Linked DNA regions of Homo sapiens: regions 1 and 2 are each linked to region 3. Evidence: fine-mapped expression QTL. A gene starts in region 3. Each other region holds a variant in brackets. All regions are shown on one strand. Distances are between the middles of the regions. Region 1 overlaps LOC105370787 (a long non-coding RNA gene). Region 2 overlaps SRP14-DT (SRP14 divergent transcript). Region 3 holds the start of BMF (Bcl2 modifying factor).

The links. PIP is the estimated chance that this variant, and not a neighbour inherited with it, causes the effect.
Region 1: its variant is fine-mapped to the expression of BMF in whole blood (TOPMed, PIP 0.98).
Region 2: its variant is fine-mapped to the expression of BMF in whole blood (TOPMed, PIP above 0.99). The same link has a PIP of 0.9 or more in blood mononuclear cells and monocytes.

What each region holds. Positions count from the first base shown.
Region 1 is chr15:40,067,058-40,077,433 of GRCh38, forward strand. LOC105370787 (a long non-coding RNA gene) reads right to left here. Exons shown (of 3, transcript NR_188231.1): 3 at 7,230-8,963. It overlaps SRP14-DT (SRP14 divergent transcript), which reads left to right. Exons shown (of 3, transcript NR_040060.1): 3 at 1-452. Among named protein-coding and RNA genes, the nearest start is that of SRP14-DT, 33 kb to the left of the region's middle. RefSeq lists silencers at 1,263-1,446, 2,565-2,624 and enhancers at 2,755-2,874, 10,005-10,376. The variant C/T (reference allele first, on the strand shown) is at 5,670.
Region 2 is chr15:40,043,344-40,053,719 of GRCh38, forward strand. It overlaps SRP14-DT (SRP14 divergent transcript), which reads left to right. Exons shown (of 3, transcript NR_040060.1): 2 at 2,618-2,726. Among named protein-coding and RNA genes, the nearest start is that of SRP14-DT, 9.2 kb to the left of the region's middle. RefSeq lists enhancers at 4,031-4,160, 4,501-4,630. The variant G/T (reference allele first, on the strand shown) is at 4,139.
Region 3 is chr15:40,103,898-40,113,962 of GRCh38, forward strand. It overlaps BMF (Bcl2 modifying factor), which reads right to left and starts at 4,982. Exons shown (of 5, transcript NM_001003940.2): 1 at 4,876-4,982; 2 at 4,362-4,489; 3 at 1,898-2,194; 4 at 283-443. The coding sequence starts at 2,189. RefSeq lists enhancers at 1-470, 1,695-1,744, 1,965-2,014, 3,585-4,280 and silencers at 1,003-1,195, 3,011-3,305, 4,790-5,039.

The DNA of each region.
Region 1 (10,376 bases), 37 kb before region 3:
GCACTGCCCTAGGGGTAGAAATCTCCAAGGCATCAAACAAAGTGACTCCTGGGGGTCAAGTGACAGAGGAGCAAGTCTTTCTGCAAGTCAAGTGGTTTCCAGCTCTGCTTTCAGCAAAATTGAAAGAGGCACTAATCAAATTGCCAGCGGATCATAAAAAAACATTTTGATAATAATGTTATTAGGCATATAACTTGGAAGAAGTTCAAAGAATTGAATGGCATCCTCATAACAAACTCATCGGCTTCCATTTATTTATTTATGTGGACAGTGTTTCTCAATGTTTAAACCTACAAAAGACTAAACATGGGAGTAAACTTCATGTTGAACCTTGTGTGAGTCTAGCAATAAGTCATCCACATATACATACACTAATTGGGAAGAAAACCTGTCCCAACCCCAACTATTTTATTAAGAGATGCATTTCCAATAAAAATTTACCTTTTATGTTTAATAGTTGTTTATCAAATTTCGTAATTATTTACATTGCTCTGATCAATTGGATATAAACTATTCTAACACTAAACTCATAACCAAAAAATTAATGCTCAGCTTTGGGAACAGAGGAATTTTTTTTTTTTTTTTTTTTTTTGAGAAGGAGTCTTGCTCTGTTACCCAGGCTGGAGTGCAGAGGCGCAATTTCAGCTCTCTGCAACCTCCACCTCCCGGGTTCAAGCGATTCTCCTGCCTCAGCCTCCCAAGTAGCTGGGACTACAGGTGTGTGCCATCACGCCTAGCTAATTTTTGTATTTTTAGTAGAGACAGGGTTTCACCATGTTGGCCAGGATGGTCTTGACCTCTTGACCTCGTGATCTGCCCCTCGGCTTCCCAAAGTGTTGGGATTACAGGTGTGAGCCACCAGTCCCGGCCAGAAGTTTTAATCTTTAAATTTTATTTAATACAATAATCAATCAAAGATTTTTCTTTCTTTCTTTTTTTTTTTTTTTTTTTTGAGACAACTTCTCCCTTTGTTAGTCAGGCTAGAGTGCAGTGGTGCAATCATGGCTCACTGCAGCCTTGACCTCCTGGGCTCAAGCCATCCTCCTGCCTCAGCCTCCCCAAAGTACTGGGATTACAGTCATGAACCACCATGCCTAGCCAATAAAAGATTTTCAAGCATAAAAAATAAATACAGGCTGGGTGCTGTGGCTCACACCTATAATCTCAACACTTTGGGAGGCCGAGGTGGGCGGATCATTTGAGCCTAGGAATTGGAGACCAGCCTGGGCAATATGGTGAAACTGTGTCTCTACAAAAAATACAAAAATTAGCAGGGCATGGTGGTGCAGGCCTGTAGTTCCAGCTACTCAGAAGGCCGAGGTGGGGGAATCACCTGAGCCCAGGAGATTGAGGCTGCAGTGAATCAGGATCACACCACTGCACTCCAGCCTGGGCAACAGAGCAAAACCCTGCCTCAAAAAAAAAACAAACAAACAAACAAAAAAAAACCCTTACATTAGCATAAAATCTGTAACAGGAGTGAAATGGAAATACAAGTTCTTGGAGAGAACGAAATAATGTAAACTTCTAAGCTGTTTAATTAGCGTTTGTTCCCCTATTTTTTTTAATGGATAATGTTGGACACAGAATTGCTCTGGCATTTAGATTCCATTGGACATTTAAAAGAAAGATACAATTTGTATTTGAAAATATCAATATTCATTTTTCTTTGAATTTTTTGACTATAAAATATAATAAAGGCATATAGAAAGTGAAAAAATATTCATAAAATGCTAAAAAGGATATCCTTTGGAACTATTTAAATTTCTGATGGAAAATTTCAAATGCCAACTTAAATACAAGAGGGTAGGTCATGTAAAAAAATTATTTAAGGGGCTTTGAAGGCGGCTGTCTGGGGAGTTAAGGTCTTGTGTCTCCAGTGCCCTCTCTCACCCCTAAGGTACTGGGTGGGCCTCTGGAGGTACATCTGCCTATACAAGGAATCTTTGATGTAGCAAAAAAAAAACACAAAACACAAAAAACCCTCACAGCATGCCCTGCCCTTGGGCTCTGGAAACCACCGTCCTGCCTGCCCCACTCCTGCTCTCAGCCCCCTCCTCAGGCCTAAGCCTCCCCAACCCTCCCCACCCCCCACCCCACTGCCCCACCCGCAGTCCACCCCGCTGTCGCCTCCCAGCCCTGGCCCGGCCAGCCCTGGAGTAAATAAACCACCGGGCAAGGACCCAGACAATGGGCCTTGGCAAGGAGTTAATGGGCTGGGCCTCTCGCGTTAGCCGAGTGTGACCGGAGCTGGCAGGGGGCCTGGCCTGGCGCCAGCATCGATTACGACCAGACGGAGCCAGGGCAGACTTGGCACGAATGGGCCCCACAGCTGGCAGATTCAGTCACCCTGGCCACAAGGGCACGAGGCCTGCCCTGGGCGCCGGCTGCCACCGCGGCTGTGCTCCCTGCCACCGCCTTCACTGCCAGTGTGGCAGGGCCGCTTGTCAGGCACTCAGTCCCTAGGCCCTTTTGGTTCTCCCCAGGGGATTGTCCCTGGTCAGGCCTCTTCCTGTCCCAGGCTGCCTCTGAGGCTGCTCTGTGGCCCCACAGACTGGGTGCAGAGCGGGGGTGGGGTAGGGGGAGGCTGAGGGTTGGGCTGGGGGATGCAGCTGTGACGCCCCTGCCCCCGGCACTCCCACCACTCCAGGACAGAGGGAGGCTGCTGAGCCAGGCTGGTGTTGGTCAGCAGGAAGAACAGGTGAAGCAAGCCTCATTTCTGGTGTCCAGATGGAGGACAGGGTCTTTCTTCCCCTGTTTCTCAGAAACCTTTGTGGGCCTGGGCTCTGCTCTGGCTCGGCAGCTCCACCCTGCAGGGGGATTGGCCGGGTGGCAGGGACCACCTGAGGGCTCACTGCGTCCCTGCTAAGAAGTTGTTCGAGTCAGGGTTTGCAAGCGGGGCTTGCCTGGGGGAAAGGGCATTTCTTGCTTTTTGGGTTTACTGCTCCTCCCAGGCTCTCTGGGTCCCTCTCCCCTGGGCGATGGGCTGTGGCATAACGTCCTCAGGGCAAGGTAACGGCTCCATCTGGAGCTGATGGCTCCTCCAACGCTAAGGAGCTCCATGGACCCAGTCTTGCTGAGCAAAGGTTTCTTTGGCTTGACTGCTGGAAGACAAATCACACCACTGGGCAGTCTCCAAATTTTAGGGGATGGTCAGTATCTCTCTGAGAGAGATACTGAGAGGTCCAAAAAACCCCACAGAGGAGAGAAAACACCAGGCCACATACCCAGAGTGACAGCCCCTGCTCTCTGAGGTCACAGGTGGAGAGCAGGGGAGGTCAGGCCCTGAGGGCTGTGGCTGCTGGAGCCAGCTCCACCAGGCCTGATAATCCCTGCAGATGAAGCCGGCGCCCATCCCAGTAGGCAGTGGTAATCCCCACCCAACCCCACTTCCCCGGGGAGGAAGCTGACACAGGGGTGAGGGGGCACTGGAAACACGGGAGAGCAGAGGAATGGCAGCTGGGGCCCTTACCCCGGCACCAGCTTCTGCACCTGCCCTGAGTTTCCCTTGTCCCCCTCCAGAAGCTCTCAGATCTTTACTTTTTTGTGAGCTCTGTTCTCAGAGAAAGTTCTAATACATGTATAATACCAACTGGCTAACTGAGTGGGGTGGGTTGGGGCTTGGGGGGCTGGGGAAATGTGTGGCCCACCAAAGGACACTAACCCAACAACCCTGCGGAGTTGTGGTCTCCAAACTGAAAGAGGACACAGTGTCAGGTGACAAACAAAACTGGCCTGGAGCCAGGCATGGTGGCTCACTCCTGTAATCCCAACATTTTGGGAGGCCGAGGCTGGAGGATCACTTGAGCTCAGGAGTTCAAGACCAGCCTGGACAATATAAGGAGACCCCTGTATTTACAAAAATTTAAAAAATTAGCTGGGCTAATGGTGGTGCATGCCTGTAGACCCAGCTACTCGAGAGGCTGAGGTGGGATGGTCGCTTGAGCCTGGGAGGCAAAGGTTGCAATGAGCCGAGATTGCGCCGCTGCACTCCAGCCTGGGCAACAGAGCGAGACCCTGTCTCAAAAATTTAAAAAGTTAAAAAAATTAAAATTAAAAACTGGCCTAGACTAGGGAAGTGAAATGTCCAAACATTTTGAACAGATAAGAGGCATGGTAGGAGGGATGAATTTTTATAAAAGAAATATTGACATTTGGTGGCGAAATATAAATATATACAAATCTTTTCCTCTACAATACTTTTTTATTGTCCTTGAAGGACCTACAAAAATCACTTAGGTCGTTTAGGCACATAAAATGTGCCATGCATAACTTGGCTCATAAAATTGTCACCTTTGTTATATGGTTCCAGAGATGTGAAGGTCTGTTTAAAAGTTAAAAACATGCTGTTAATGGAGACTCTATTTTTCCCCAATATTTTTTAAAACCAAAAGACTCCTCAAGGAGTCTGATTTTTTTTTCTCCCCTGGCCTTCATCTGGACTCTTCCTTTTGGTGGCCTTTAATGAAGTAGGTTGGAGACCCTTCATACTGGGTAACCTCACACCTTGACCTGGGTAGTCAGTAGCACAGGGCCCAATGCTTAGAAGGGCCTTGCATTTGGTTTAAAACTCTGTTGCCGCAATATATATATGTCTTTTTTGAGACAGGGTCTTGCTCTGTCACCCAGGCTGGAGTGCTGTGGCATGTTCTTGGCTCACTGCAGCCTCCACCTCCTGGGTTCAGGCTATCCTCCCACCTCAGCCTCCCTAGCAGCTGGAACTCACAGGCATGCACCACCACGCCCACTAATTTTTTATTTTATTTTTTTGAGACAGGGTCTTGTTCTGTCACCCAGGCTGGAGTGCAGTGATGCAATTTTGGCTCACTGCAACCTCTGCTTCCTGGGATCAAGTGATCCTCCCACCTCGGCCTCCTGAGTAGCTGGGACTACAAGCATGTGCCACTGTGCCTGACCTAATTTTTTATTTTTTGTAGAGACAGGCTCTCACTATGTTGCCCAGGCTGGTCTTGAACTCCTGGGCTTAAATGATCCTCCTACCTCAGCCTCCCAAAATGCTGGGATTACAGGCACGTGCCACCACACCCAGCAAACGCTTCATAATTTAATAAGGGGCCCGTATTTTCACTTTGCACTGAGCCCCACAAGATAAGTAGCCAGGTCTAGTTATACCCCCGCCTGAAGCCAACACTGACCTTCCCCAGCCCTCGGAGCTGTCCCCAGGCCTCACTAGTCTCATCTCTCCAGTAGGAGGCCTTTGCCCTTGTGTAAGTCTTGCTTCTTCTCGTCAGGAGTGCCTGACTGCGTGCCTCGCTTCGAGCCTCCCGTCCCCTCTAGCCAGCTCAACAGCATCTCCTTATATTCCCCTTCGGCCCTGGGGACCACTGGGAACAAAACAAAACGCAACCCGTTCCCTTGTGGCTGTCGGGCGGGCGGGCGTTGAGCCCTGTTCCTCACTCCAGCTGGTGTACCCCTCCGGGAGCCACGCCTCGCGCGGAGCGGGAGCCTTCAAAGAGGCCGCGCCTTCCTGGCTGCTCCCTTCGCATCCTGATCCAGTCCAATGATGTTTTTGCAATTTTCCTGTGAGCTTGGTGGGAAAAGCTCAAAGAGACTCTGTCTTCCTTTCTGGCTTCCTTTCCAGACGGCGCAGCTTTCTCTCAGCTGCTCCCCTGCCCCACCTCTCTCGAGGAAATCGGTCTCTTTCCTCT[C/T]CCCCTCACCCAAAAGGTCCATTCCTGAGGCTTATCCTGAAATCAAGCCGTAGCGGAGCGGTGGGGGATCCGAGGCACAAGGTGGGTCGGAAGTCGGCTAACCACCTGGCTTGGGGCCTCCCTACCAATGCCACCTGTGGAGGCAGACTGTTCGGAGGATCCCGGAGGGAGACAGGGATAAAGAGAGCTCCTGGGGCTGGAAGAACATTAGCACCTCTCATTAGGGCTCCCACAATACCCCATCTGAAAGAAGGTGATGGGTTGTTCATAACCCGCTTCTCCTGGAAACACTTTCTAGTGGCCGGGGACAAACGGGAATGTGTCGCCTCTGTGGCCTTTCTGTTGAAGCAGCTTAGCTGTCAACGCTATTCCCTGGGAAGAGCCTGGCATCCCAGGGGTCTCAGAACGGGCATCAGAGTTCAGAATGTATGACAATCACTCCCAGCCAATACCATCACTCTCCCAAATCAGGAGTTTCCAGTTCTCCCAAGGCATCAACTGTACCCTGACACCCTAGTGCAGTGCTAGGGAAGTGCGCATGTCCCATTAACATCACTCCTCCATCCGCTCCTCCGCCCCTCTTTCCTTCTCTATTAAAAGTGATAGGCTGGGCGCGGTGGCCCACGCCTGTAATCCCAGCACTTTGGGAGGCCGAGGCGGGCAGATCACTGTCAGGAGATCGAGACCATCTTGGCTAACACGGTGAAACCCCGTCTCTACTAAAAATACAAAAAATTAGCCGGGCGTGGTGGCGGGTGCCTGTAATCCCAGCTACACGGGAGGCTGAGGCAGGAGAATAGCGTGAACCTGGGAGGCGGAGCTTCCAGTGAGCCAAGATGGCGCCACTGCACTCCAACCTGGGGGACAGAGCGAGACTCCGTCTCAAAAAAAAAAAAAAAGATCCGCAGGACTTGAGAATAAAGAAGACTTGCCTGCTGTTTCCACCCACTAGAGAGCCCACCAGGCCCAGGGACAAGCCCAGGGCTCCAACTCTTCCCTTTTTTTTTTTTTTTTTTTTTTTTCCAGCAACGGGGCCTCATGATGTTGCCTAGGCTGGGCTCCAGCTCCTGGATTCAAGCAATCCTCCCACCTTGGCCTCTCAGTGTTTTGGGATTACAGGTGTGAGCCACCACGCCTGGTCTCAAGCCTTCGCTTTCGCAATCAGCACTAAAGGCAGCCAGAAATCAACCGTGCGCCACCCCCGACCTGAGAAACAAGTCTAAATGTGTCCGGAATTGGTGGGTTCTTAGTTTCACTGACTTCAAGAATGAAGCCGCGGACCCTCGCGGTGAGTGTTACAGCTCTTAAGGTAGCGCGTCTGAAGTCTGTCCCTTCTGATGTTCACACGTGTTCCGAGTTTTTTCCTTCTGGTGGGTTTGTGGTCTCGCTGGCTTAGGAGTGAAGCTGCAGACCTTCGCGGTGAGTGTTATACCTCTTAAGGCAGCGCGTCTGGAGTTGTTTGTTCCTCCCGGTGGGCTCGTGGTCTCAGGAGTGAAGCTGCAGATCTTCGCGGTGAGTGTTATAGCTTATAGCTCATAGACGCAGCGTGGACCCAAAGAGTGAGCAATAGCAAGATTTATTGCAAAGACCGAAAGAACACAGCTTCTATCAGCCTGGAAGGGGACCCGAGCGGGTTGCCAATGCTGGCTTGGGCAGCCTGCTTTTATTCTCTTATCTGGCCCCACCCACATCCTGCTGATTGGTAGAGCCGAGTGGCCTGTTTCGTCAGGGCGCTGATTGGTGCGTTTACAATCCCTGAGCTAGATACAAAGGTTCTCCACGTCCCCATTAGATTAGTTAGGTACAGAGTTTCCACACACAGGTTCTCCAAGGCCCCACCAGAGCAGCTAGATACAGAGTGTCGATTGGTGCACTCACAAACCTTGAGCTAAACACAGGGTGCTGATTGGTGTGTTTACAATCCCTGAGCTAGATATAAAGACTCTCCACGTCCCCACCAGACTCAGGAGCCCAGCTGGTTTCACCTAGTGGATCCCGCAATGGGGCTGCAGGTGGAGCTGCCTACCAGTCCTGCGCCGTGCGCTCGCATTCCTCAGCCCTTGGGTGGTCGATGGGACTGGGCGCCGTGGAGAAGGGGGCGGCATTCGTCGGGGAGGCTCGGGCCGCACAGGAGCCTACGGAGGGGGTGGGAGGCTCAGGCATGGCGGGCTGCAGGTCCCGAGCCCTGCCCCGCGGGAAGGCAGCTAAGGCCCAGCGAGAAATCGAGCACAGCACCGGTGGGCCGGCACTGCTGGGGGACCGAGTACACCCTCCGCAGCCGCTGGCCTGGGTGCTAAGTCCCCCATTGCCCGGGGCCAGCAGGGCTGGCTGGCTGCTCCGAGTGCGGGGCCCACCAAGCCCACGCCCACCTGGAACTCCAGCTGGCCCACAAGGCCGCACGCAGCCCCGGTTCCCACTCGTGCCTCTCCCTCCACACCTCCCTGCAAGCTGAGGGAGTGGGCTCCGGCCTTGGCCAGCCCAGAAAGGGGCTCCCACAGTGCAGTGGGGGCTGAAGGGCTCCTCAAATGCCACCAAAGTGGGAGCCCAGGCAGGGGAGGTGCCGAGAGCAAGCGAGGGCTCTGAGGACTGCCAGCAGGCTGTCACCTCTGATAAATAGGTAGGACCGTAAGCAAGCCAGAAGCCCAGGTGAACAGTGGGCCCGGAGCCAACAGGAACTCGCTCTGAAACTCCAAATCCCAAAAGAGTAGAGGGGCTGGTTTCCATAAAGGCCGCAAAGTAAACCTTGTGGAGAAGACTCCAGTGGCTCTGGAGAAAGGGGGAAGCAACGTGGGGCAGCAGAAGGGCAGAGGACAAATGAGTCAGCAAAAATGACTTCCTACCTCCCAAAGGGGAGGGGGTTGAGGACGGGAATTTCCAGTAAGAAAGACTGGCAAGATCCTGGGTAAAAGCTGAAAGGGAAAGAGGTACACGGGGCAGGAAAATAACACCATTGGAATGAAAATGGTTCCCCTGCAGTCTAGTGATAGGAGAAGGAGGGAATTGAGTGAGTTGGGGTATCTTAGCCATCTCGGCCAATCGCGTGGCACTACAGCACTGGGACTTTCTTGGCAGAATGAATACACAGGGGCTTAGAGGCATGTGCTGCTACTGAGGGGAGCACCAAGTGAGAAATGGAAAAGACCAGGAGAGTGGTGAACGGCCTCACGCTCACTTGACTTCACTCATGCAGAAGGGCTGCGGGAGCAAGATGGAAGTCCTGACTGACGATCCACACTCTGGGTCTTCAGGGAAGTGTCAGCCTCAGAGCTGCGGTCAGTGCGTGGAGCCGGCTACCTGTTGGGGAAGAAGAACTTAAGGTAGCTCCTTACCTCACACGTGCTAGTTAGGCTAAATAATTATTATTTTTGAAAGGAAGCAATTTAAAAAGAAAGAAACGAGAAGAATGTATAGGTAAAGACTTGAAAAAAAAAATATATATATATATATATAGTCAAGACAGGGTCTTGCCATGCTGCCCAGACCAGAGTGCAGTGGCTATTCACAGGCATGATCATGGTGTGCTACAGCCTTAAACTCCTGGGCTCAGGTGATCCTCCTGACTAAGCTTCTCAAGTAGCTGGGACCACAAGTGCATTCCACTGCGTCCAGCCTTCTTGAACATTTTTATATGAAAAGTTATATAAGCATAAATGCAACAGAAGTCACAAAGGAAGGCTTGATTTGGCTGCATTGAAAAAAATTTGTGACTCGAAGTGAAATTGTAAGACAAATAGCAGTTTATAAAGAATTCTCGTAGACAATAAAATACTAATTCCAAAAGTTAAAAACAGCCAAATACTAAGGAAGAGACAACTCGCAGAAGAAACAATGGCAATTAAGTATTTAAATATTTCTTACTAATTTAGAAAATAAGAAAGTGAAAGTTAAACAATGAAATGTCTCATTCTGGGTGGACATTGTAGCTCATGGCTGTAATCCCAGCGAATGGGGAGGTAGAGGTGGGAGGATCGCTTGAGCCCAGGAGTTCTAGACCAGTTTGAGCAACATAGCTGGTCTCTACAAAATAAAAAATAAAAAATAAAAAATTAGCGCAGGGCACAGTGGCTCACGCCTGTAATCCCAGCACTTTGGGAGGCCGAGGCGAGCGGATCACGAGGTCAGGAGATAGAGACCATCCTGGCTAACACACGGTGAAAGCCCGTCTCTACTAAAAATACAAAAAAAAAAAAAAAAAAAAAAAAAATTAGCCAGACATAGTGGCTGGCGCCTGTAGTCCCAGCTACTGTGCTCGGGAGGCTGAGGCAGGAGAATGGCGTGAACCCGGGAGGCGGAGCTTGCAGTGAGCCGAGATCGCGCCGCTGCACTCCAGCCTGGGAGAAAGAGCAAGACTCCATCTCAAAAAAAAAATAAAATAAAATTAGCAAGCGTGTTGGTGCACGCCTGTAGTCCCAGATACTTGGCGGTGGAGGGGTGGCGGAAGGGGGCGGGCTGTTTGAGCCCAGGAGCTCAGGAGGTCAAGGCTGCAGTGAGCCATGATCGTGCCACTATGCTCCAGCCTGGGCGACAGAGTGATACCTTGTGTCAAAAAAAAAGAAAGAGAAAGAGGGAGGGAGGGAGGGAGGGAGGGATGGAGGGAAGGAAGGAAGGAAGGAAGGAAGGAAGGAAGGAAGGAAGGAAGGAAAGAAGGAAGGAAGGAGAAAGAAGGAAAAAGAAAGTCCCTTTTCACTCGTAAAATTAGCAAAATAA
Region 2 (10,376 bases), 60 kb before region 3:
TCCTCAGACAGAGCACACTTTAATTTATTAGGTGTTTAATTAGAGTTGGTTTTGAATTAGGGTCAGGAATTTGGTTAGGGTTTGAATTAGGGTCAAGGATCTTGTTCAGGTTAGGGTTGATTAATTTGCAGCTGCAGTTACTCTAATGCAATTACACTTTGCAGTGCCTGGAAAGTATAATGCTTAAAAACACAGTCGCTAGTTCCTGGATGGGGTTCCTAGCTGGGGTAGTCAAGGCTGCAATAAGCCATGATTGTGCCACTGCACTCCAGTCAGGGAAACAGTGAGATGCTGTCTCAAAAAAATTTTGTATTATGTTTAACCTATTATTAATAAGGAAACCAGATGTATGTTACAATCCATTCAAAGGGGAATCCAGTAAACATCAGGAATTCTGGAATGAATTTGTAAATGGAAGTAAAATTGGATTTTGCACAGGAGGGACCCAGGGTTGTCCCTTCACTGAACAGAAGCATTTGTACATCCATAGACAAGAATCCTCTGCATTGCCATTGAGTCTCTACAACCTACAGAGTTGTAAAATAGCGCAAAGGAAATAAAAGGCTAGAAATCAGCTAATCCAGAAGGCTGTGTTCTAATCAATGTATAATTTTTCATTGGAAACATCCACTATTTTTTATTTTGTTTTGTTTTTTGTTATTGTTGTTTTTGAGTTTATCTTTTTCTTTAATGTATTTGTTTCCACTAATCTTTTTTGCATATTCCAAAATTGCTTAAGTCTCTCTGTGCCTCAGTGTCCTCATCTGTAAAATGGGGAAGTCATAAAAGTGCCTACCTCATGTCAAGGGGAGGAGTAAATGAGCTAAGGGATGCATTATTACACTGCAGTCCCTTAGTTGGGAGTGGGCTGTTCTACGTCCTCCTCGTCAAGGTGGATTCATTCTACAGGAGCAGATTGCAACAAGACACTGTGCACCTTACGGAGGACTGGCCTCTGGGCTAGTTTAACTTTTCAGTTTCAGTCTGAGGGGAACTATACCTTGGGCTCTGAGCTGCCTCACCGTAGCTCCAGTGTGCTGATTTAAGGGTCAGTTCTGGATGAAGGAAGGAGGGTATCATCTAAACACATCGAGGAATGGCACTGGGCAGGTCTGGCTTTGGGATGACAAATTTTAGAACCTAAGGCTGGGAGACCTCCCACGTCAGCGGGAGGTGGTTAGCTCTGGTGGAGCCATCCTAGAGAAGGCCAGAGGAGTGGCCGGAGGGAGATGAGAGTGTGTCCTAGAAGCCTGGGTGCCCGGAGAGAGTAAACACCCTGAAGCCACACGTCAACACACTCCCTGGACTGAATCCACTCCAACACTGGCAGTTCCCAATTCCTTTATTCTTTTCTGCAGTCAGTTGGTCAACAAGTGTTCATTGTATCTGCTCAGCCAACTCAGGGCTCCAGGAACTCTCTCCATCCCCACCCCAGGATGAAGTCCTGGATTTAAATCCCAAGCCCCAGTGTCCTAGAGAGACAGCACAGGTGCCCTGGACTGTGAGTCAGAGACCCCAGGCTCACCCTGCTCCCCAACTTGCTGTGAGGCCCTGCACGAGGTACTTGCTTGCGCCCTATCCTCCACAGGGAACCTGCCTCAGAGGGTTGTTGTCGGCTTTCAAGGACATAATCCACGTAAAGGGCTCATAGTAAACACCCAGTTGATGTATTTTTTAAAGTATTTTCACTGTTATGTTCAGGACTTAGGCTAGATTGCTAATGTCACTTCTACTTCCAAAATTCTTAGAACTGCTGCTTTTCTCCCCCCAGCCCCTTCTGGGGGCCCTAGGGAAGTTTCCGGAGCCCACAAGTGTCAGTGATTAACACTGGCCTTCCCCTCGCTCGCAGCAACGCCACCACGCCCTCCCTCCACGCGCCATCGCAGAGATGAGGAGTGGCCTCGACCTGCCTGTGACTCGTCTTGGGCCAGTAGGGGACGCCCTGGCCTCACCAGACGAGCGCAGCCATGGGCGACCGCCTCAGCCACTCCCAGATCTTGCCCTGTCGTTTACCTTAGATCAACCCTAAGAATATCCAAGATCGTGGTCATTATTTTTCAAAATTACTTCTGTGGAGGCTAGAACTTTCCGTGTTACAGAAAGATTATCATTCATCCATTCACTGAACAAGGCTAAACAAGCAGTGTTTGGCACTGTTCTAGGTGCAAGAAGCTGACTGACTTCTCCACTAGAGAAGAGACTATTTTTTTCTCAGATAATAGCTTGCTTATATTTATTGAGAAGTTACTAAGTGCCAGGTTCATTTCTAGGTGCTTACATGTATCCACTTTTGAGCCCCCAATAGTCCTGTGAGGTGAGCGTTGTTCTAGCTGAGGAGCCTGCCACCTCTGTGCGAAGAAGCACTTGCAAATGAGTGTAGCCTGCGGGCAGCTCAGGAGTGCTGAGCTTTCAGCTGTCTTTCAGCTGTCCAAAGAGGTGACAAGAAGGGAGGGAAGGCAGAAAAGAGACCAGCTCTAGGCAGAGTGGAACAAACTGGGACTCTCTCTCCACTCCTCATCTTTCCCTCCCTCTGGGTGTGGGTTCCTATCCCAAGCCCCTGTCCCCCTCCCACTCCCATGCAGAATCCTGTCTCCTTAATCCTGTCTTTGGATTCCAGGTCCAACTTGGCATTTCTTGGCTGTATCTCTGAAGGAAAGTCATCTTAATCTCTATGAGCCTCCATTTCCTCAGCTGTAAAATGGGAAGATCTTCCTCACACTGCTGTGGTGAGTTCAGTGTGACAATGTGAATATAAAAGCTTATACGTGAGAAAGCATGGCAGAAAAGCTAGGTTTCATTGTTCTTTTCCTCTCCTTCTCAAGCAGTACCCTGAGTAGAAATATTCGGTCGTGCAAAACACCCCTCCCTCCCTCCCCATCAAAATCCCAGTCTCTCACTAAGCTCAGCTAGCTGTGTGGAGGCAACCCATCTGGTAGCTAAATCACACGAACATGTTCAGGACAAATGGTTAGTATGTCACACGCCCTCCATTTGTGGAGGAAACTTAGGTGATGTTAAACAAAGAACAGACTCTAATGGTGGGATTTCTGGTATAGGGGCTTTGGGGAGATACAAAGGAATTGCCAGTACCCTCTAGGCTACACTCCATGGGCAGCCCCTGGCCCCACATGCCTGGAAGGCCATCCTTGTACAGAATCAGGTGGTGGCACTCAAGAAATGTGTGTGAACTTTAAGAGGTTCTCCCCTTCTCATCTAGGATTTCCTTCCTTGCTGAACCTCAAGAAGGGGGCCAGCATACCCCATATTGTAAGAGGGGAAACTGAGGCCAGGAAAGGCAAGCATAGTTATTGCAAGCGTAGTTATTCCCAGCCAGGCTGGAAGTCTGGGGCATGAGCACCTATTCCTGCCCTCCTCCTCCCCACACTTTCATGGGTTTAGTGGGTGGGGGAGGGGCTCCCTTATTCAGGATGATTAGGGGTCCCCAATTTAAAGTTTCCTGTCTGAAAGTCAAGGACAGGAAATTATATAGCCAGAGTTCTGCACAAATTACCCAACAGGTGTCTCGACTCCCCAAAGCGACAGATGCTGTTCATCTCTTGGCCTCTGTGTCATCATTCATCCTTGATTGTTCGGGGAAGCCCACTCCACCTCTGTGACAGACCCACAGATGCAGATTTACACAGGGAATCCTAGACAGACACAATGAAGAAACTCCCATCTGATCAGAGCCAAGTCCCAGTAATAACATCAATGAATCATTGACTTCAGTGAGTCACAATATTGAGCTGGAAGAGGCCTCCAAGACCTTTTTAGTCCAACCCTTTACCTGCTAGTTATTCACAAGTGAATAGAAACTGAGTGAGGTCCAAAGAGGGAAAATGACTTGACCAAGATCACAAAGCTTGGTAATGCCAAAGGTGAGACTGGAAGCCCCGAGCCCTGAGCCCCAGGCCCATGCACTTTCCACACACCCCTCTGCCTGCCACAAACTAGCTGGCACAGAGAGCAGGAGGGAGGGCATAGGCCCCTCATGACTTAGCCAAGGGCAGCTCAGTGTCTCCATGCAGGTGGACTCCGTGTGTCAGCTTCAGCCCTCCCTTGGGAAGGGAAGGGCCTGGGGCCGTCCTCACACCCCAGGCGCCAGGCCACGGAGCTATAGGAGGCAGCTTCCTGCTTG[G/T]CCCTTATCCAAGGCCATTTCACAATGGGGGGAAAAGCGCTGAGCTGAGAGTCCCGGGTTGCTGCTCACTCCACCCCCACTCCAGCCCCTTTCAGACCCCCCAGGGACAACGAGCCAGGCCCGGCCTGAGGCTTGGGGTGAAGAGAGCTGCAAGAATGGAGACAGGCTGAACAGCCCCTTTTGGGAGTGTTCTATGAGCTGTGTCCCTGGAACTGGACGAGGGCACCACCTTGCATATTACCAGCACTATCCCCCTTCCCTTGCCGTCCACCTGCAAGCATTCAGGCTGGGGAAGTCCCTTCTGGGACAGGAGTGGTCGCTTCCAGTCAGCCCCATAGCACTCTCATGATTAGTCAGAGGGGAACCTGGAGGCAAGAAGGCCCACAAGCTGGGAGACGGCAAGGCCTGGGTCACTTCCTGCAGTGAGGCAACGTGACTACCAGGCAGAGGAGCCCAAATGTCTCCTCCCAAGATGCTACAGGGTCTGGGGTGAACTGTGGCTCAGCTGACTGAAATTCAGGCAGGAACCAAGACAGAGACACTGAGACGGGACATTCAGCCAGGATTTATTATGCCCTTACACACAGGGTCGGCTCTGAGCTCAGCTCTGTAAGGGATCTCGTTTGAAGTAGGAGGCAGTGGTTAAGGACCCAAATCATCCTGTCTTCAAGTCTTGAAGAGGAGACAAAACAAACCTAGGTGAAATGTCAAACCACAAGACAAGGCAGTGTGAAATGAGGGCCCACACTCTCATGCTGGACAGTCCAGTATGGCCAGTGAAGCGGGGGTGGGGAGGGAGTCACTGCAGACAAAGCTTCGGGGAAGAGATGGAACCGAGAATGATGGGGAGAACTTGACTCTGCAGACAGGATGGGAAAGATCTTTCAGACAGGGAAAGGAAGACAAGGCAGAAATCAACCTGCATACGTGAGGACAGGACCCTGTTTGCACCAGGGGTGGTCAGCCACGAGGCTGGAAATGTGCCTGGCCACAGGGCACTTCCTCACTCTGAGCTCTTGCTACTTGAACACAGCCTTCCTTGGTATCCGTGGGAAGTTGCTGGCCTACTGAGGCAGGATACCACACGGAGAACTAGGCAGGGGCGTGGAGGTGTCAAGGAACTCAGCCCCTTGGTGGAGGAGCCCTCTGACAACAGGAAGCAGCTGCAACGGGCTCCAGGGCTGTACTGGTATCTGCAACTCTCCCCCTACCCTGGCTGCACCCTGCAGAACAAACTGTTCTTCAAGAAGTTCTGGGGACAGAGGGCCCACACCTGCTCCCAGGTCGGGGTGGATAAACCCCCATCAGCCAGGCTGGGAGCCCAGCAGAGACATCACACAGCTCAGCAGCCCTCCTCACCCCCTGGCCCCCTGCCTCCTCCTACCCCAGACCAGGTTGCAGTTGACTAGGGCAATATAACACAAAACAAGAGCTTTATATTATTATTATTATTATTATTATTTTATAGAGACTGGGGTCTCACCATGTTGCCCAGGCTGGTCTCAAACTCCTGGTCTCAAGTGACCCTCCTGTCTCAGCCTCCCAAAGTGCTGAGATTACAGACATGAGCCATGTTACCCAGCCAAGAGCTTTGGAGAGGGAAATGAGAACTGAATCTTCATAAATACCTCATCCTGGAACTTCCAACAATGTCTCCAAAAATAGTACCTAAACTCCAGGCCTCAAACTCTAAATTGAGTGGGGATGTGAAGTGGTTGTGGCCTTACAGAAACAGCACTGGAGTGGCAGCCGAAGTGCTGAGTTCTAATCTGAATTCTGCCACTCATTGGCGTGGGACCTTGGACAAGTCACTTTTTGCCGGACTTGAGTTTCTTCCTCTGTAACTTGGGGAGTTGGGATTGAGCTGTAAAGTCCCTTCCAGTTTTAAATGTGAGACTCCAATGCTGTCAGGTAACTTTGGGATTGCTGTAATGACTGTTTGGGGGCTAGTATAGCTGGGAAAGAAATTAGGATGAGAATCCAATTGAGGGCAAGATAAAATGGAATTGTATTCTATTCAGAACTTGAAATAGGATGGGATTTTGTTTTCCCCAGATCCTCACCATAAAGAGATTTGGGAGAAAATCTTGGGAGATTTGGACTCAGAATATCTTAAGAGGTAGTATTCTAGAAGATTGCCCAACACTTGGTGGGGAAGAGCAAGAATTCTTCCAGATTGCTTGACAAGCAGAACATGGGGAGTGGGTCACAGTAATACCAGGAAAGACACATCCCATCCTCCCAACCCTCTTTTCCACTGAAGCTGCTCCTTACAATTCCTGTAACTGGGGACCAGGCCTTTCATTCCAGTTACAGCTAAAACTTAACATGGCCATTTAAATTTCCCTGAGGGTATAAATGGCTAATATTCTCTCCTTCTAAGACCCAGCATATGCTGAGAGAGGCCTTCAGAGGAGGTGGGGGCTGGAAGAAGGAGTGAAGGTGGAGGCCCAAAGATCACGCAGGAGCCATGCTTTTTCTGAAGCCAGATCTAGGCCTAGCAACTCAGAGCAGTTCCCCGTGGGCAGTGATGTGGAAGAAGGCCCTGGGCTTCCTAAGTGCCTCTAGGTCACTTTGTGAAACCTCTCACATGGGCCTGCCTGGGAGGAGGAGCCCAGTGTAGCCCCCACCTGTCTGCTGCCTGCTCATCTTCCAGGGTGTTGAGGGGATGGGTAGCATGGCTGTCTGCCCCCACCAATTACCCACATGGCTTGGGTCAACCAGACTCTGTCAGAGCTGTTGAAGGAGACATAAACCTAGGCTTTTGGAGGCAGCTTCAGGGAAAGGTGGAGTGTGTGAGGTGGAAGGTGGGTGAGAAAGTGTGCAAGGGGGAACACACTGTTCTCTACTGGCCCTTTGCCAAACAGCAAGGGAGAGAGGAGTAACAAGGCCAGACTATGGCCATGTTTAGTGGTTTTCAACTGCGGCCCAAAATGAGGCAGACATAGGCTAGGCATGGTCTAGCCCTTGTGTGTGTGTGTGTGTGTGTGTGTGTGTGTGTGTGTGTGTAGGGGGAGTGTGAGGAAGTTGTGAGGGTGTGTGGTGTGTGGGGGAGTGGTGTGTGTGGGGGGTGTGGTGTGTGTGAGGAGTGTGTGGTGTGTGGGGGATTGTGGTGTGCGGGGGCGGTGGTGTGTGTGGTGTGGGGTGTGGTGTGTGCGTCTGTGTGGTTGTGTGTGGTGTGTGGGGAGGTGTCATGTGGCATGTGTGGGGGGTTGTGTGTGTGTGAGGAGTGTGTAGTGTGGGGGGGGTTTGTGTGTGCATGGTGTGTGTGCGCGTGTGAGGGGGTGTGGTATGCATGGGCAGTGGTGTATGTGGTGTGTGGGGGGTGTGGTGTGTGGGGGTGTGTGGTGCGGTGTGGGTGTGTGTGTGTAAGGAGGTAGTGTGTGTGGATGTGTGTAGGGGGTGTGGGGTGATGGTGCGTGTGTGGTATGGGGGGTGTGGTGTGTGTGTCTGGAGTGGGGAGTGTGTGGTGTGTGGGGAGGGTGGGGATGTGTGTGTGGAGTGTGGGGGTGTGTGGTGTGTGTGTGGAGTGTGGTGTGTGGGGAGGGGGCGGGTGTTGGCCTGGGTGAGCCCTGGCAATCGCAGCAGAGAAGATGCCAAAATTTTGTATTTACTGTCAGGGCAATGATGCTGGAACTGCAGATCCAGCGCCCCGAAACCCGGCCCATCCCAAGACACTGCTTCTCACAGCCAACAGAGGAAGGAGGGAGGGGGAGAGGCCTGAAGCCGAGGCTTCTTCTTGAGGAATGCTCGCCAGGCCAGCAGCCTTCCTCACTTCAATGCAGCCTTCCCCTTCTATCCACCGATGAGCATTTAGCGGGCAACTCCTTTGTCCAGGGCAAGCCTTCCCCAGGTCTCTCTCTTCAAAAGCAGATGCTACCTAGTGGGAGGTGCGGAGTTATACATGCAAGAAAGGGCTACAGGACAGCATCACTAGTACCAAGCTGTGAAGGAGGTGGACTTTGAAGGGAAGAAAGAATTTAGAAAAACAGACTAGTGGACTAGTTACTGCGGGGAGCAGAGTGCCATTTCAGGCAGGAGAAGGAGTGTGATGTGAATCTTAGGGAAGAGTCCTCTTTGTATGTTCTGACAACTATTCTCTGACACCAACGGGGCATCCTGCAATTGGATTCAGTGTCAATTCTGACACTGACTACCTGCAGTTAGTGCCTGTGATATTGTGAAACAGGTATTAATTAGGTCTTCATTCCTGACATACAACTCCTAAAATCCTTGGAATCTCCTAAGTTTTAAGTGTCTTTTTGCACGCTAAGCACCTAGGTAGCTTCAAGATGGGAGCTGGCCGCCAGAAAGATCAAGACAGGGTTAGAGGATTGGGACTTTCAGCCCCACCCTTCAACCTCCAGGGAGGGAAAAGGGGCTGAAGTTTAAGTTGATCACCAGTGGCCAATGGTTTAGTCAATCAGGCTTATGTAATGAAGCGTCCATAAAAACCCAAAAGGGCAGGGTTCAGAGGATTTCTTGATAGCTGAACACGTGGGGATTCCTGGAGGGTGGAGCACCCATGGAGGTTAAAGAAGCTCCACCCCTCCTCCATAGCTCACCCTATGCATCTTTTCATGTATATCTTGTGGACTATCCTTATAATAAGCTAACACATGTAAGTAAGTTGTCCCTGAGTTCTGTGAGCTGCTTTAGTGAACCCCAATTAGCTGGTCAGACAGAGCAGCGGCGAAACAACCCAGGGCTTGCACTTGGCATCAGAAGTGAGGAGAGGGGACTGAGTTCTCAACCTGTGTGATCTGACACTGTCGGCAGGTAGAGTCAGAGTTGAACTGGAGGATGCCCCACTAGTGTCTGCTGCGGAAATGATAGCTTGCTTGGTGGCGGGGAGAGACCCCTGCCCCCCCATGTGGTGTCAGGAACGTGTTGAGAGAGCATAGTAGGAAAAACCGAGTTTGGTTTTTTTACAGTGTCAGACTCCACAAGTTAAATGTCAAAGTCCCCAAGACTACCCTTACTTCAGAACTCAGGCGCACGCAGGGTCCACAGGCTACTGGCACTTCTGTCTGACTTGACTACACATTTGAGTTCTCACCACCCAAACTTAGGGTTCAGTAGTTGGCTAGAATGGCTCACAGAACTCACTGAGCATGCTATACCTACAATTAGTTTTATTATCATATAGACTCAGAACAGCCAAAGGGAAGAGCTATGTAGGGCAAGGTGTTGGGTGGGGGCGGTGTGTGTGCAGAGCTTCCATGCCCTCTCCTTGTGGAATGTGGTATGTCCCTCTCCCAGCACATTGGTGTGTTCACCAACCAGGAAGCTCCTCGCAGTTTCAGTGTCGAGTTTTATATGGGGCTTTACTCCACAGGCACCATTGATGAAATCATTAACCACATGACGAACTCAATCTCTAGTCCTTCCCTCTCGCCCCAGAGGTTGGCGGTGCAGTAGGGATGGGAGTAGGGATGAAATTTCCACACTCTGATCACATGCTTGGTCTTTCTGGCATGGCCAGTCTCTCCCTTAAAATTAAGGGCCCACCTTGAGTTGCCTTCTTATCATAACCTGAGGTATGATGGAAATGCTCATTACAAATGACAAAAGGCGTTCCTGTCACTCAGGAGATCCCAAAGGTTTTTAAAGCTCTGAGCCAGGAAAGGGGGACAAAGACCGAATGGGCTTTTTAAAAAGTCATAGCAGAGATTGTAATGGGCAGTTCCTAGGGAAAGGAAGTGGGAGCTGAGGATGGAAAGGCAGGGTGGGGCAGATGTATAAGGTCAGAAGTTGATGGGTACGGGGAGGAGAAATCAGCCCTGCCCTCCTAAGGAAGTGCAGGCAGAGGAGAAGCAGTAGACACCACTCCCTCACTTGAGTGTCTTGGGGGAATCTTTCACTCTTCCAGTAAGTTTAATTTTCCCCTGGGTAGTTCGTCCAGGAGGAGGCAGCCTTCAGTTTCTGCTTTGGCACCAACGTCCCCACAACTCAGGTCCAGGTTCCCTCGTGCAGCCTCCTGACATTCCCCACAGTTCAAATACCACCTCCTTCTAGAAGGCTTCCCTGATTACCCAAGTGGGAAAAGACCCTGCCCTGAATTCTGAAAGCCCTTTGAAACCGTCCCCTACTGCCCCGCGGGGACGTCAAGACAACTTACTGTGACTCATTCCTATCTCCCCAGTTTGATCCTGAGCACTTTGCCTTACCCCTTTCTGCTTCGTTCCAAACAGCCGGCACTGTGTGCTTCATAGAACATTTGTGAGCTCTGCAGACA
Region 3 (10,065 bases):
CTGCAGAAAGCCATCCTATTCCCAGACTGTAGCCTCTCCCGAGAGGGCTCTTATGGAACATGAATTGAGACTGGGCAGTTAACCAATGTGGAGCTCAGAGATGAGGGCAAGATGCTTAGCCAGTTAGGCCCCTCCTGCCCATGGGAACCGCCATAACCAAAACTCTGGGACAATATCCTTGAGGTCTGGCAGAGACAGAGTTGCTGACAAGAGGAGAGAGGCAGGCCCTGGCCCCCAAGCCCCAGCAGACTCAACCCTCCTCCCCTAAACCCCCGTGCCTACTTGCTGCACATGAAGCCGGTGGAACTGGTCTGCAATGCACTGAAGCTTTCGGGCAATCTGTACCTCTGCTTGATGTTGCCACTGCCCTTCGGGGGGCTGCTCCCCAATGGGCAAGACTGCTGGGAAACTGGCAGGGAGAGGAAGCCGATAGCCAGCATTGCCTGCAAAGATAGAGGATCCACATCTCAGCATTCTCCACAACTGCTCCAACCTCCCTACGCCTGCCTGACCTGGCCAAGATTGGAGGCTGAGGGTAAATCCTCATATGAGAAAGGATAGGAGCCAGCCTGCCTCTATTGGAGCACTCTGCCAAGCTTGGACAGCCTGCTGCCCAAGTGCATAAAAGTTGCAGAACAGAAAGAATGGCCCCAGCCTTCTCTTCGCTTCTCCATTCACTGACAGTGCCATGACAAAGGGCAGGTGGTAACGTGTGCAGGCGAACATGCCAGCCTTCCGTCCTTATTTATCAAGCTACCCTTAACCACAGTTGGTTATTCACGTAGTAGCAGGTTGAAGCTCTTCTCTGGAAAAGCACTGGAGGTAGCTCTCCAGTTTCTGGGTTGAGCAAAGTAAGAGGCAGAGCAAGAAAAAATCAAAAAGTGTCTTCACTTTTTTAGTGCAGTAGAGTAAGGCTGGTCTCCCGAAGCTCCTGGGCAGCAGCACAAAAAGAGGGAGAGAAAACTGAGACGCACAGAGCTGCCAAGTTGCTCTCCGGAGACAGCCCCAGGCAAGACCTCTAGACCAGCGCTCCACACTTACCCAGTGCACGCGTTAGAACCACCGCTAGGGGCGCCAGTCCGCCGGGCTCCTCGCTCCTTTCCCTCTTCCCCGCCTGCCCGCCTTATCCAACTTCTCAGACTCCCGCCAGAACTGCTTTGCCAGAACTGCCCTAAGGGGCAGTTCCCTCTGGGAGTAACTGCAGTGTCTCCTCAATCAGCTCGTCAGACACAGTAAGCCACGCTCCTAGCCTTTACCCTCCCTCCATAAGCTGCAGTGCTAATAGAAGAAAACAGACTGTCTAACCCTGCCCTTTTGCCAGAGGAGGGCATATTTCTCATAAAACAAACTATTTAAGCCCACAAATGAAGGGGTCTTGTCTTAGCCTTGGAAGCATCCCCTCTCCTGGCATTGGGCCCAGGCAGGCCCAACCTCTTTCTCCAGTTCCCCTTTCACACACAGAAAGTCCCATGTGGCAACTGGGGGCCACCTTCTGCCTTTGGGAACCCTCCCTCCCAGAACCGGCTGGGTTTTTCCCTTCATTGTCAACAGCCAGTCACAGATCCCCCAGACTTCTCCAGGGCAACAGGAGCCACTTTATAGTAGGCAAGTCACTGCTAGGACACTAAAGGCCAGGCCACTCAAGGGGCACAAGATGTAAAAGGAGATACCATGGACCCAAGGATCCCTCCAGGAGGGGACAATTTGCCCTTTGGGGGGTCTGAGGCACAGGTGAGGAGCAATAACAAGCCGAGAGGCAGCAGGTGGAAGTCAAGGAATCAACAGCCCCGCTGATCACTTTGGGGGAAGGAAACAGCAAAGGGCAGGTTTGGGGAGGGAAAGTCCCCTCTTTTCCCCCAGTCTCTATGGGAGGAGTCTTGAGGCTGAGAGCACTCACCATAAAAGAGTCGCTGGGGTTCCTCAGTCACCCCACAAGGCAGCATGACACCTTGGCTGGGGGAGGCTGGGCTGAGAGTCTGGGTAGCTTTGTCTTCCTGGCTGGTGGGTCGAAGGCCAGGGCCACAGCAGTGGGTGAGAGGGAAGAGCTGAAGTCGGCTGAGGGGGCAGTCCAGTAGGCTCTGGGCAAACAGGTCAGCAGAGAGCAAGCTCCCGGGTTGGGTCACCGGCTCCCCATCCTCTGGTTGGAACACATCATCCTCCAGCTCCTCCACACACTGAGATGGCTCCATCTCTCCTGTGAGGGGGCAACGCAGGCATCTGGGCTGCTGCCCCACCAGGGCCATACCTGGAAGGACTCCCCTTCCCTTCTTCCTACCATACTCCCCCTTCTTATTTGAGCTGGCCGGACCACATACTGATGACATACAACCCTGGTAATAAAGCACTGCTAAGGGTGACATTCACTCCCCAAATGTGGACTGCCTGAATGTTCAGGGGCTCTCCACACCTCTTCCCTGGGCCCGCCTGGAACCACCCTTTTTCTTGATCACGTTTTCTGACCTAGGCCGGTCACAAAGTTTGACTCTGAGGGTTGTGAGCAATAGCAGGAGTAGAATCAGCAGCTATATGCATGCAGGGTACCTGGGAAAATATAAACAAGACTAGCCTCTGTAAGTTGCTGTCAAGGGTGCTGTGACTGGCTATACATACAGTGCTCACAACACACACACACACACACACACACACACACACACATACAGAGTCATTGTCCCAAGGAAATTCTTATCTCAGTCTGAGCTGAGCTCCAGGCTCAGCAGCAAAAACAAAAGCCAGCAATCCTAGGACAGCCAGGTTCCCTCCAAACCTCTAAGCCCCGCCCTGCTGCCCATCTACTCTAATCTCCACCCCTTGCTTGCACAACACAACAAACAGGCTCTGCAGTGTGGTAAGAATGTGTCCTGGGAGAGGGGATAAAGACCCAAGCTAGTCATTGCAGCTGCCGTCTCGGCTCTCTTTGAGCAGAGTTGAGCTGTCTGCCCACCAAAGTTTGGCCTAGAGGGTAGGTCCAGCCTCTCCCAACTAAGTCTCCTCACTAGTCTCCACGACTTCAAATCCCTGATTCCACAGCCTCCCGCTCCTGCCAGCTCTGAACCTGAGACTGGTACAACTGGTCTTACAGAAGGAAGTGAAATTCAGCCCTCTCCCTGTGACCTCACTCACTGCCTATACTGCTGAAGTTATTGATATGAGTTTCTTGGTGATAAAGAAGTTCCTCTTGCTCCACCTGATGGCTCTTGAAAGTCTGAGCTTGGAGCTACTCAGCATCTTAAGCTTCCAACCCAGCTCCCTACACATACCAGGAACTGCTTAGGGCCCCTGCAGCAGCCAGAAGCAGCAACCACCTGAACAGCTAAGGATAAAAAGAGATGAATTTCATTCTTGTCAGACTCAATTAGAGATTCCTGGGGGTTCTGTCCCCTAGTCTCTTGCCTTTGAAGAACAAGCCAAATGGTCTATGGATTGGTGAAGTAGCTAAAAGAATCTCAGTTCAATTCAGAATGCTGCCTTTGCCAAACACAAGCTGTGAGCTGCTTGCTTGGGCCCTGCCTTCGTCCCATCCCATCCCTGTCCCTGAGCTGTCTATGGTCCTGTCTGTGCCCTCTTCCCTGGAGAATGAGGAGATGCCTGCTAGGATGGCAAGCAGCCACGTGGTGTTCTTTGGACCGTGTTTCCCAAGTGTGTGTGTGTGTGTGTGTGTGTGTGTGTGTGTGTGTGTGTATGGGGAGGGGGGTGAGGTGGTGCACTCCAGCTTATTAACAACAGGAAACAAAATTTCCTGATGAAAGGACCAAGTGCTGTCCCGCCAGTCACCTGGCAGGGGCTCCCCTCCAGCTCTCCAACCTCCTCTTCTCAGGCTAGCAATCTTGACCTAAGAAGGGGCCCTCAAAGCCAATCACCAGCACGAGTCATTGTCTTGGTTTTTCCTTTGAAGCCTATCACCTTCCCCTCCCCCTCCCAGCAAAGCCCCAAAGTTCAACCTTTGCCTGGACTGGACAGTGGGGGAGGTGCAGCCAGAAGGTGTGGCTCTGCAAGCCCCAGGGACCCCTCTCACGCTCCACAAACTGTAGGTGGCTTGCCTGTAGGTGGGCGCCTCTGGAGGGGTGCTGGCCAAGGTCAAGGGTAAACTAAGAGAGGGTGAAATTTTTCTCCTGAGCTTAAGAGGTGATGTCCAGAGCGGTGGGAGGAGGAGGGCACTTCCTGAGAACAGGGCCAGGGAATGCTTTATTCCTAGCAAAGGAACTCAAGCCCCGCTGCAGCCATCCCAACCCCTAAGGGCTGGAAGAGGGATGCTGAACTTAGACTCCTCCTCCTCTTAGGAGAAGGCAGTAGTCAGACACCCAGATCCTCGACAGTGACTAGGAACACACACACACACACACACACACACACACACCCCAGACCTGGGTGACTCCAGGAGAGAGTCTCGGCCTCCGAGTCGTGATGCCAGGGCTCCGCGCCAGGGTCCAGCGTGACGAGCACTCGGGGGCTGGACGCCCAGACTCGATTGGGAAGGAGGGAAAAAGCCCAGCTGTTAAGGAGAGGAGCCTTCAGACTCCGCAGAGAGGCAGGATGCCCCACAGCTCCTGTCCTATCCCAAAGTCAGACCCAGAGGCTGGGCCGTTCTCGGGCGCCCAGGTCTGCTCAGCAGTGCACCCCAGGTTCCCCTGCCTACCTGGACCCAACTCCTTCGAGTCCCAAATGCTACCCCCAAGTTCCCTCTTGGAGCAGCGCACCCAACTGTGGGTTCTGCACCCCGTTCCCTCACCCCAGCGCCCCAGTTCTTCATGGTCACCCCAGACGTCCGCAGCCCAAACCCTTCCCGGGCCCCCGTGCGCAGCGCGACTCCGCTCCCCACTTCCCCAAGGAGCTGCGATCCAACTCCGCCCGGCCCCCGGCGGCCACCCGGGCGCTCACCGGGCTGCGGCAGGAGGCGGGAGGCGCAGGCAGGGGCGGCGGCGGCGGCGGGCACAGGCCGGGGCGGGAGGAGGCCACTCCGCACGGTGCGGTATTGTTTCCAAAATACGCCTGCTCGGGGCATCCCGCAAACAGCTGATGAGGCCCCGCCCCCCTGCGCGTCACGCCGAGGACTGACCAATGGCGAGTGAAGCGCCAAGTCCCGGGCTGGGCCGCTGCCAGGGACGGTCACGAATGTACGAACCTTCCCATGGAAACATTGCAAGGGGCCGAGCAAAATTCCGACCGTCGCCAGAAGCGCAGTCGGAGCGCCGTCGCCAGTGCGGATTCTGTCCCTAACACAGGCTCTGGAAGCGCCAGAGAGTCCCTGAATCCTCTGTATTAGGTGTGGGAGAGGGGGCGCCAAAGTAACTTTTGTCTTCTTTTTCACGGCAATGGGCAGAATAATTGCTGCGCGTCCACAAAGGGAGGGGGGAAGGAGGCGGGGAGTTTTTTTATGAGGCTGGTGCGTCCAGTGGGTGCAGGGTGCAGGGTGCGGGTCCCTATGGGATCCCAGCCTCAGGGGAAAGCTCCCTCCCGCCTGCCGAGCAGGTCGGAAGAAAACTGCAGCTCCAAAGCTGAAGGTGTGTTTGAAACAAACACATCCAGGGGAGCCCTTAGGTCCTCTTCTTGACTGGGCGTGGGCACTGGCAAAATAAGCACCTGGCTGAGAAGCGGAGCGCTCAAGAAGGCCGGGGCTGCTTGAGCGGTTGACACATATCTCGCATATGGCAGCATTTAGAGACTGTGCTGGTGCTGCCAGGAGAGCAGCATGTCCTGCAGACCGCGTAAGGGAGTCTATGGGCTACTTCACAGGCATTTACCGAGCACCTACTCTGTGCCAGATATTGGGCTGAGTGCCAGAAACCTGGCGTCTGCCCTCAAGGAGCTTACAGTCTACTAGGAGAGGTAGCCCTGAAAATAGTGAAAAGTTATTGGAATTGTATTCATTCCAAGGATAATGACTATTGAGGAATGCAGAAAAATTCAGAATACAAAGGCTGGAGAAGGCCTCAGGGAGACAGCTTTTAAATTGAATGGGAAATATTTTTCAATAAGGAAAACCAGATGCACATGTCTCACGCCTGTAATCCCAACACTTTGGGAGGCCGAGGCGGGTGGTTCACTTGAGCTCAGTGGTTGGAGACCAGCCTGGCCAACACGGGAAACCCTGTCTCTACTAAAAATACAAAAATCAGGCGGGCGTGGTGGCGCATGCCTGTAATCCCAGCTACTTGGGAGGCTGAGGTAGGAGAATTGCTTGAACCTAGGAGGTGAAGGTTGCAGTGGGCGGAGATAGCGCCACCGCACTCCAGCCTGGGCGACAATGAGACTCCGTCTCAAAAAAATAAAAATAAAATAAAATAAAAAAGAATAGCCCAGGCCTAAGGGTAGCAGACTGAAGTGCTGAGCTGGAGAGCTTACCTGTGCAGGGAGCAGAGGGAGGCTTGGTGACTGGATCATTGGGTGCACACTGAGATTTACGAACGGTAGGCATGGGCAGGTGGGTTCAGGTCAGACTACAGAGGTGTCCCTGGAATGCCAGACTGAAGAATCTGTATTTTATAAAGGGGAGGCAGCAAAGATTTTATTGGAGATGAGTGACTTGACCAAGCCTGAGTTTTAGGAAAGATAAAATGATGAGTCCAGAGAGCAGTGAGAGGGAGCCAGTCCTGCAACAACCCTGACCCACCAGGGGCAGTAGGGCTCAGCAGTGCTCTGACCACCGAGCTGCTCTCTGGGTTGTAAACTTAGATTTAAGTTCAGTGGAGCTGGGACCTTCAGCCCAATAGAGCCTGAAGTCTCCTTGTACCTTTTTCCCATCATTCTTTCCTTTGCTCCCTCAGAAGTCACCTGAAACAGAATGAACCAGCCATATTGAGGGCTGTGGTTGCTAGAATAGAAAAATACTGTCTCCAAAGGACAAAGAGGGAAAAGGGAAAGAGTGGGGAGTCAAGGTTAGCCAGTAGCACAGTCCCCCGAAATTGATAGATTTCCAGCAAAAGGCACTAAGCCAAAAGGAGGTATATTATTTTACCCAGAGGCTTGGCCAAAAGTGCATGTCTGAGCTGGTCAGAGTGACCTTGCACTCCTGCTACATGTAGGGAGATACAGAAACCAAACCTAGCCTCTGTGAAGGGCACCGGCAGCCCTCCGTGATTTCCAATGCACCGACTCCCTTCCGCTCCTTCCTTCCATCCTTCTCTTCTCATTTGCTTTCCTATCAGACCAGTGTCTCAGGCTGGCCAGTGGTGCCCCTGAGCATTCCTTCGGTTCAAGAGTGAAACTCAAGGCCACAGCAGCTCTGAATCTGCCCTCTGGGACAGCACAGGCCCTGAGGGCTGGGGCCATCGTAGCTCTCCTGACCCACCTGAGATGCTAAAGCTCTGTGTGCTTCATCACAGCCCTGCATGGTAAAATTGGGTCCACAAGGCAAAGAAGCTGAGAGAATGGGTTCTTTTTGTTTGTTTTGAGACAAGGTCTTGCTCTGTTTCCCAGGCTGCAGTGCAGTGGTGCAAACACAGCTTATTGCAGCCTCAATCTCCCAGGCTCAAGTGATCCTCCCACCTCGGCCTCCCAAGTAGCTGGGACTGCAGGTGTGCACCACCACAGCCAGCTACTTTTTAAATTTTTTATTTTTGTACAGACAGGGTCTCACTATGTTGCCCAGGCTGGTCTTGAACTCCTGGCCTCGAGCACTCCTCCCACCTCGGCCTCCTAAAGTGCTGTGATTATAGGCATGAGCCACCGCACCCAGCCAAGAATGGGATATTGATATGGGATCTATGTACTCATCAGGCTCATCAGAGTCCTGAGCTTTAGGGTTTATGAACCCCTGAAACTGGCTAAACTGTGTTTGTGGGTACACACAAACATTTTTGTGAGTGGGGTGGATCCATAGCTTACAACAGTTTCATAAAGTGGTCTGTGGCCCTATAAAGGTTTCAGAAAATCGTCATTGTGACAGAACTGGGCTGAGGAACAGGAGGGAGTATCTCAGGGGGTCTGGCAGTTTGCAAGATATGGGGAGGGTCACATCACTATTGATATTTATTTTAAGACCTCTCTCCCAGGTCTTCACAGCCTGCTCCCTCAGGCTGGTTCTGAAAGACACCTGTGGCTTTGCCTCCTGCGCTCTCAGTCTCTAAGGTCAAGCAGCAAGGGGCCCAGCCTTCTGAGCTAGAGGGACCAGAGAAGGACTGTCAGGGATAAAGGGGTCAGGGAGGTCAGGAGCCTCACCCCCACCTCTCATCACTGTCAAAGCAGACTCCTCCCTCTATGCCCTTTTCCCCCTTTCAGCACTGCATGGACTCAGCAGTATCAGGACCTGCTGTGCTGCAGATCTGGGCTCTGAGCCCCCTGACCAATAGCAGCACCCTGGGAACAGATGAACCCTGAGCTTTTGACTGGGCTCGGAGCAAATACACAGTGCAGTCACAGCAACCTCTATTTTGGAGAATTTCCTTTCTCTCATTCTCTTCCTGCACCTTGTCTCAATTTGTTTTCTCCTCTGCTAACTGATGCTGGCTCTGGGAGAAGGGTCCCCAGAGAAAGGCATCAGCACGGAGGCTGATAGGGAGGAGGGCCTTCCCTGACAATCTTGGAGGGATACAGAGTTAAGGGGAGGCTGCTCTCAACCAGAGAGAAAACCCAGCTCCTGTAGAAAGCGGGCAGGAGCCCTCTCCATTGTCTCACCTGGCTATAGGATTTCTCTCTGAGACAAGAAATGGCTCTAAAACTCCAGTAACTGGATCACTGGAAAGGGCGGTTTTTAAAAAACCAGCTGACAGCTGAATAATAGGAATTACCAGGCAGGCTGCCCTGGGGTTACTGAGGTTTGTAACTCAACCCCCAGGGAGGGGTTAGATGGGAAACTGATTTATGGGTAAGGTTGGGGTCTTGCTGGGGGAGCACATGGTGCCTGACCCCCTTAACTACTTCCAGAAGAGCTCATATATGTAAGAAAGACCAGGGATCTGCAAGACGTGGGTGTCCTTCCCTTGCCGGACTTGCCCTATCAAAGGGACTTTATCTGTTATCCGTCTGTCTGCAAAGGATAGTTCCTCTCTTCTGAGTTGTAGAGAGTGTGTGTTTGTGCGCACGAATGTGTGTGCATGTGTGTATGCGTGTGTGTGCGCGTGTGTGTGCGTGGGTAGGTGTGCGTGCATGTGTGTGCACGTGTGTGTGCGCTGGTAGGTGTTTGTGGGCGTGTGTGCACGCGTGTGCGTGGGTGTGTGTGTATGCGTGTGTGCGGGTGCACACACACGTATGGCGGGGGTGCGCGCACGTGTGTGTGTGTGTGTGCGCCAGAACAGACAGATTGGCTTCTACTAACTGGGCAAGTTAAGAAATTTGATTGCCTAGTCAATGAGCTCACTTCTTGCCAATTGCTGATTCAGAGGGATTCAAATAGAAAAAGCAGGTACTCTACTCAAGAGAAAGCATCTGGGAATTCAGAGACCTGGATGTAAAGGGAAATACAGAAACTAAGGACTAAAGCTGGCATGCTACCCTCTGGGAAAGCTTGGAAGATAAGATGTGAAGTCCAAGATCCCATGAAGTATGACAACAGCATATGTTCAGTTTCATTTGGGGGGACTACTCGGTAAATATTTGTTGAATGAGTAAATGAATGTATATTCACACGTTTAAAAAGTACAAGTAGTTCTGTATTAGGAAGTGGGAAGAAAGCTACAGTGGGGGATTCCCGATAAATGTCCTGTCTACATTGGCTTTGCCATTTAGGATGCCTGGTCTTATCTTAGTTTCTTTTTTTTTTCTTTTTAAAAAATTATTTAATAGAGATGGGGGTCCGCCTGTGTTGCCCAGGCTAATTTCAAACTCCTGACCTCAAGCGATCCTCCCACCTCAGCCTCTTGAGTAGCTGGGATTACAGGTGCAAGCCACTGCACCCAGCTTATCTGACTGAGTTTCTTCTCACCAGCGAGATGATCCTCCAAGAAGACAAGGGTGATGCCATCTACTCCTTGATACCCTCCGACTGCTCTGCTCCAGGCTTGGCACATGAGTCACTCACTAAGTCTTTGGAGACAAATTTACTGGAAAAACTATGAGCCAGGCCCTCAGGGCAGTATCCTCAGCTCCCCTCTCCTCAACCCAGTGTGCAGCCCGTGGAAAAGAAGTTAGCTT